2 linked regions of the Homo sapiens genome follow. The protein of the gene in region 2 interacts with the protein of the main gene of each other region in a pairwise test. Each region holds a gene or a part of one and is shown on either strand. Other genes may lie near its edges.

What was found. The genes of interacting proteins can lie anywhere in the genome.
Region 1: the proteins of MORN4 (region 2) and SEPTIN11 interact in binary tests that used the Homo sapiens proteins (3 or more experiments, as listed by UniProt).

Annotation. Positions count from the first base shown.
Region 1 is NC_000004.12:76,952,634-76,956,384, forward strand, and holds part of SEPTIN11 (septin-11), read left to right. Parts: intron 1-3,751. UniProt on the Homo sapiens protein: Filament-forming cytoskeletal GTPase. May play a role in cytokinesis. May play a role in the cytoarchitecture of neurons, including dendritic arborization and dendritic spines, and in GABAergic synaptic connectivity.
Region 2 is NC_000010.11:97,626,865-97,630,615, forward strand, and holds part of MORN4 (MORN repeat-containing protein 4), read right to left. Parts: intron 1-3,751. UniProt on the Homo sapiens protein: Plays a role in promoting axonal degeneration following neuronal injury by toxic insult or trauma.

The DNA.
Region 1 (3,751 bases), on a different chromosome or scaffold from region 2:
GATTTGTTGTTGACTGCAAAACAAAGCTTCAATTTAGTGTGATACTGTTTATTTCAGTTTTAATTTTGATCCCTAGCTTCTCCATTTCCCCACTGATGGTTTTTGGGCTTAGCCCTAAGAAGACCCTGAAGCACATCTGCTGTTTGCCTAGTATAACTGATGATTAGCAAGAACATTTTACTCCCAAGGGATGTGTCTGCATTTTGGATGAATTAGCATTTTTGCGTCCAAATCCCGGGGCAGCTATTATCTTTATTTTAAACAGAACATGGCAATTTACTCTACTTGGGAATCAGGCTTTATGTAGCTGATGGCCTCTCCTAAGCTGTGGTGTTCATCAGTTTAAAAACTCTAGGAGTTGAAAGGAACGTTAGAGGTCATTTGGGTTAGCCTGCTCCCCAGTGCAGAAATATTTCTTACTTTATCCCTAACAAAAAATATGTGTTTAAACTTCACTGGTGGTGGAGATTTCCCTATGATATCCTTCAAGAAATGCACTTAATTGCTGTTTTATCTGTTGAGCTGAAGGAAATGGAAAACCAAGTTTCCATTTGCTCATTTAACACCATTTATTAAGCACCTGCTATGTGTCAGGAACTTGTTCTAGGTGTTGGGGATATAGCAGTGGACAAGTTTTCTTCTTACCAGGAGCTTTATTGTTTGAGAGATTTGGTGTATTAAAGTGACAGACTTCAGTGTAAATGTGTAAATCATTTAGGGAGAAAAGGAATTATATGCCTATTGCTGACTCAGCAAATATGATTCAGGTGAAGGATCATATCTGTCTGGGGATAATTATAGGCAATTCTTAAAGATGAGGGCAGGGAGTGTGGGAAGTGGAGGAGTACTGCCAATAAAATGTTACTTTCCCTTGTTATAAAATTGCCATTTTTGTGACTTGAAAATGTGGCCCCAGATGGATGGCTGTGGTCGGTGTGCCTGGAGAAACATGAATGGAGCCAAGAAAGGTCCAGGGGAGGGCCACCTAAACAATAAAGGGACTGTCATCTCAGGTCAGTTTTCAAAAATTAGAACTTTTTAGTCAGTGATATAAATTATACATACTGAGGCTCTATAAGCAGTTATTAAGGAATGCAAGAAGTTTCTGAGGTACAATAATCTCTCCTTTTAAAATCTTTCGAAAGTTATAGATTAATTTATCTTTTAAATTATCATCTTTAAAAATGATGTGTCTACATTACAGTGAAAAGGAGACCCAAGGAATTGATTAAAAGAACAAAACTGCCCATAACCCACTATCCTGATATAATAGTTCTTAGGTGTTTAGTCTATTTCACCACTTTTTTGAGCAGACATAACCCATCTTGTATAAACTGCCACCTAGAAACCAAACTGTGTGCCTGAATGAGTCCTGTGTGACCATTTGAATAATACTCTTAAAATGAAGGAAGTGGATGCTTAGTGTTTGGGCATGGGCCATCCTATGTCTGCAAAAGGAACAAATGATTGTGGGACTCTGCTGTTTCCTTGATTTGGATGGCCTACTTGATTGATTGCCAGCAGACCAAGTGTTTATATTCTACCCAATGATGATGTCACACTGATCATGATCATCGGATTTAGACTGTGGCGCAGCCCACAGAGTTTTCTGTGCCTGTGTTTCTCTTTATAGGACTCTAAATTTGGTTGGGGATAGACGCTGCTCTTGGATTTTATCATTTTATTGGGATCCATCTTTCATAGTCTTAGCTAGACCTGTCTCAAATGGGGTTAGCAAAGCTGAACCATTATTTAAATGAAACCCAACACATCTAAAGCTTCTATACTTTTTTCCAAGGAGATCTACTTTACAATATAATTGATAACCTCCCCCGCCCCCTTTTTAAAAATCTGGATTGACAGAAAACTCTCAAATAACAATACTTCCCCTGACCCACTCATGCCTGCTGGCAGCCCATCAATGCAGCAGCTGTTGAACATAAAAACAATACTTGGGCTAAGGTAATAGAGACAGACTTCTAAAAGGAATTTGCTGGGCGATCTAAAATGAAATTCACATTGTTCCAGGCTTGACCTGAGATAGAAATCAGGAGTCTGTTCCCTGATATGACAAAGCCAAGGCACCAGAGCCACCTCTTTTTAGGATCGACGCCAATGAGTGTGAGCACATCGCTCAAGCCAAATGGCACAGGAAGTCCAGTTCTGTGGACACATTCTGCCCACCTGCTGAACTGTGACTGGGTAGGATGGAGTGTGAAACATTGAGAGAGGGGTAGGCTGAGGTGGTGAGGTGGGAAAGAGACCATATTCTAAAAGGACCATTTTTCTGACAAGTGGGAGCTTTGTTTGTTCTTGTCTGTGTGTGATTTCTTTTTTATTTATTTATTTATTTTTTTTTGCATTTTTATTGTACAAAAAGGAAATGAAAATATATATAGCATAACATTAAAATTTACCTACTTGTTTTTGATAATAACATTCCTTTGGGAAGAATTGATTTTTTTTCTCTTATAGAAGTTGAGGCACAATAATGTGGATAGGTTAGAGATTGAAAAACAAAATAATCCTCAACACCCTAACACATCAGTACTCATTCTTGCCTTTCCAACCCACCTGTTTTATCAGACATTTCTTGTGTACCTTCTATATGCAGGTGCTGAAATTATGTTGGTGAGTACTTGACTGCAGTCTTTGCTGCTCTCATGAAATCTCTCTATAGGCTGAGTAAGCAATAGGATTTAGCAAGGAAAGGGAGATGGGGAGGTGGTTGTGGAAGTGTTCCAAGCCCAGGAAACAGCATGTGCCAAGCTCTGGAAGTGAGGGAGAGACTCTTAAGAAATCCAATGTAGCAGGAACGTCAGCCTTAGGGTTGGGTAGGGAGAGTGGACAGACAAGAGGCTGAGGAGGTGGGAAGAGACTCAGTTGTGCAGTGCATTCTTTATAGGCATGTATTTACTGTGTAGCTCTTTAAATGCTTTATATTCCATCCACCCTTTGCCCATAACTTAAGATATCTCAGATCCTTGAAATTGGTTGAAGGAAGACAAAGAAAATCTGCAGACTACTAATTCTTCAGGATTCAATAGGAGAGTTGAGAAACGATCAGGGGAGTTGATTCCTTTCATGCCCAAATTGAACCCTTAAAGAATAGAGGAAATGAAGACTGACAGAGGACACAGAGAAGGAGAGTCCAGTGACAACATATGACAACGACAATGCTAGATCTTCCTCTGCCCAGTTTTATGCATTGAGCCTTTCCTCAGGATTCAGAACTAGAAGTTATTATTTTCTTAGACCTAAGCAACTGAGTCCTGAAGAGTGTGGTGGGGCTGGGGGGGAAGATGGTAGGACTCTTTCCACCTTGGACTTCAAGTGGCAATCAGTGTTCTCCAAAAAGGAAATTAAAAACTCATTGGATTTTATGAAAACAGGAGAAGAGTCTGTTAAAAGCCAGGGTTTACTTAAGACTTCATGCTGTTTTAGTTATCTCATCTCTTTGAGTACTGTCTTCATACCAGTATAAATTTTGTGAATCTCATTAAGGTACTCATTAAACTTACTCTGACCTGCTGTTGGAGGGCAAAAGGCTTGACCAAAAACTTCTGTGCACGGGAAGCTTGTTCAGCATCTTGATTTTCAAATTTATTCAATTCAAATTACTGTCAAGACAATTATCTCACCTTATACTCACAAAATACCTGAGAAGTAATATAGAGAAGGAAAATGAGACAGGAAGAAGTTGTCAGTTAATCTGCTACAGCAAATTTGTGGGAGAGCTAGGCTTTGGAAC
Region 2 (3,751 bases):
CTCTTGCCCCAGCCTCCCAAGTAGCTGGGATTACAGGCCCCTGCCACCACGCCCAGCTAATTTTGTATTTTCAGTAGAGACAGGGTTTTACCATGTTGGCCAGGCTGGTCTTGAACTCCTGACCTCAGGTGATCCTCCCGCCTTGGCCTCCCAAAGTGCTGGGATTACAGGCATGAGTCACTGTGCCCGGCCTGATTTTTGTTTGTTTGTTTGTTTAATGGAGACTGGTGCTGGTGACTTTGCTGAGTAGCTTCAGCAGAGGGACCTGAACACCTTTTTTTTTTTGTTTTTTGTTTTTTGAGACACTCTCACTCTGTCACCCAGGTGGAAGTGCAGTGGCTCGATCTCAGCTCACTGCAACCTTCGTCTCCTGGGTTCAAGCAATTCTCGTGCTTCAGCCTCCTGAGTAGCTGGCATTACAGGTGTGTGCCACCACGCCTAGCTACTTTTTGTATTTTTAGCAGAGACAGGGTTTCACCATGTTGGCCAGGCTGGTCTTGAACTCCTGGCCTCATGTGATCTGCCCACCTCGGCCTCCCAAAGTGCTAGATTACAGGCGTGAGCTACCGCGCCCAGCCAGAACATAATGATTTTTGATACAGACACCAAAAGCCCAGAAATGGTCTAATGTGAAAACAGCTAGGCCTGACCAGAGCAGGGTTCAATGACATCTTCTACGCCCTGGCTCTGTCCCAGCCATGAGGACAGACGAGTTATAAGAATCCCTGTGCTCTCACCCAAATAAGAGAAAAGATTCATTTCTCGCCTAAATGAAGGGCAACCTTGTGGAGACTCTTCTAGAGATATTTGGGGGCCACTCCCATAGGACTTTCTCCCTTCTTCAGTTATCAGTCAAGCATTCCATTTCCAGTATCTCTCACACAGAAGATATCCGAGGCAAGGACCATTATCTTCTTGTAGTAAACTCCCTCCAAACCTCTGGGAGCTATTTTCTGAGACGTGATGCTGGTACTTGCCATGTCATCTCTGTCCTATCAATGTCCCACAAGGTCAGCATCCAATTTCAGGCTCACAAGCCTCTTATCACCAGCCCAGCATCAGAGTGTGCTGGGGTAGAGGCCAACATGACTCCATTGCAAATATAACATTAATGAGAGCATGAGAAGTAGTTTTCCATCAGAATAGCAGAAGAAAACGCTTTCCAGTACAGACGGGCATTTTGATCAGGCAATCCTCAGCTCTTCCCAGAACTAAGTTACAGCACTAAAAGTCAGCTTATGGTTGAAGTTTCATTCCTTCAAAACACATCAGTTAGAATCTGAAGGGCTGTATCTTCCACTAAATCTTATAATTAAACAACCATTCCAAAACCTAAACACAAAATCACTATTTATACAAAAAGATTATAAGAGCATTTCCTTTAGATGTCTGGCAGCAGTTAACCAACTTGTTTTCACTCAAAATTTGGAAGGAGTTATTGCAGTGGGATTTGAGGAGTCATATTGACTACACAGGGACTCAGGGAAAGTACTGCCTTGTATTTATTTACTTTTTCTCAAGGCTACGTGAAACTTCCAAAGAGTGGCATTCTACCTTGTTCCAGAAGGAACAGTATAAGATTGCTGAAAGAAGGGAACATTTCTCCAGTTTGAGGGTTATTTACGGACAAAGTACTAGTTTTCAAGTGGTACACCTAACCACTTTTTTTCTTTCTTTTTTTTTTTTTGAGACACAGTCTCACTGTGTCACACAGGCTGAAGTCTAATGGCATGATCTTGGCTCACTGCAACCTCCGCCTCCCAGGCTCAAGAGATTCTCGTGCCTCAGCCTCCTGAGTAGCTGGGATTACAGGCGTGCCAGCACGGCCAGCTAATTTTCATATTTTTAGTAGAGATGGGGTTTCACTATGTTGGCCAGGCTGGTCTCAAACTTCTGGCCTCATGTGATCTGCCTGCCTTGGACTCCCAAAGTGCTGGGATTATAGGCATGAGCCACCACGCCCAGCCCCTAACCACTTTTTTAGTATGCTGTTAGCTCTTGGGGATTATACCCTAAATATTTTAAGGAAGCCAATGAAACTGAAAAGGTTACCTTCTTATTACCAAATGTGGCGGACTGTATTTCCAAGATGTTTGCAACAGTATCTTCTGTCTTACATGTTTGTCTACAATTTGATCTGGCCATTGATCCATTAAAAGGTGAAATCTACCTCCCCTCCCTTGAATCTGAGTAGGCTTGTGACTGCTTGGACCAAAAGAACACAATGAAAATGATGGTGTGGGCCGGGCGTGGTGGCTCATGCCTGTAATCCTAGCATTTTGGGAGGCCGAGGCGGACGGATCACCTGAGGTCGGAAGTTCAAGACCAGCCTGACCAACATGGAGAAACCCCATCTCTACTAAAAATACAAAATTAGCTGGGTGTGGTGGCCCATGCCTGTAATCCCAGCTACTTGGGAGGCTGAGGCAGGAGAATTGCTTAACCCAGGAGGCGGAGGTTGAAGTGAGCCAAGATCGCGCCATTGCACTCCAGCCTGGGCAACAAGAGTGAAACTCTGTCTCAAAAGAAAATGGTGGTGTGTTCTGAGGTTAGATCATAAAAGGTGATGCAACTTCCATCTTGTCACTGATACACTCACACTTGGAGACCCGAGCCACCACATAAAAAGCCTGACTACACAGAGGCTAACACTGAAAGCCAAGCCACACAGAAAAGCCATATATTGGTGTTCCAGTTGGCTGCCCTTACCTTTGAATCATCCTATCCCACGTACCAGGCATCAGTGAAGGAGCCTTCAGATGATTCCAGCCCTCAGCCATTGAGCCTGCATTCCATCCCATATCAGGGAGCAGAGAGAGGCCTCCCCATGGTGCCAGGTCCAAATTCCCTCACCCACAGAATCCATGAGCATCATATGGGTGTTTTTTTTTTGTTTGTTTGTTTTGTTTTTTGAGACAGAGTCTCGCTTTGTCACGCTGGGTGGAGTACAGTGGTGTGATCTCGGCTCACTGCAAGCTCCGCCTCCCGGGTTCAAGCAATTCTCCTGCCTTAGCTTCCTGAGTAGCTGGGACTACAGGTGCTCGCCACCACGCCCAGCTAATTTTTTTTTTTTTTTTTTTGAGACGGAGTCTTGCTGTCTCCCAGGCTGGAGTTCAGTGGCACGATCTCAGCTTACTGCAAGCTCTGCCTCCCAGGTTCTCGCCATTCTCCTGCCTCAGCCTCCCCAGTAGCTGGGACTACAGGCGCCCGCCACCATGCCCAGCTAATTTTTTTTTGTATTTTTAGTGGAGACGGGGTTTCACCATGTTAGCCAGGATGGTCTCGATCTCCTGACCTTGTGATCCGCCTGCCTCAGCCTCCCGAAGTGCTGGGATTACAGGCATGAGCCACTGTGCCCGGCCCCGGCTAATTTTTTGTATTTTTAGTAGAGATGAGGTTTCACTGTGTTAGCCAGGATGGTCTTGATCTCCTGATCTCATGATCCGCCCTCCTCAACCTCCCAAAGTGCTGGGATTACAGGCATGAGCCACCGCGCCTGGCCACAGTATGGGTGTTTTAAGCTGCTAAATTCTGGGGTACTTTGTTATACAGCAATAATAACTGGAATACCATGTTTCAACCTAACCCTCCCACCATCCTCTCCCATTGGTTTTCAACAGTACATACTACAAACTTCCATTCCATTTTGACTTAGGCACATATAGCAAATTCCCTTCAGCAAATGCTTGCCAAAATGATGTCCATTGCCAAGACCACAGTCAGAAGTGCTAATGAAAGGGAATGTGTGTAG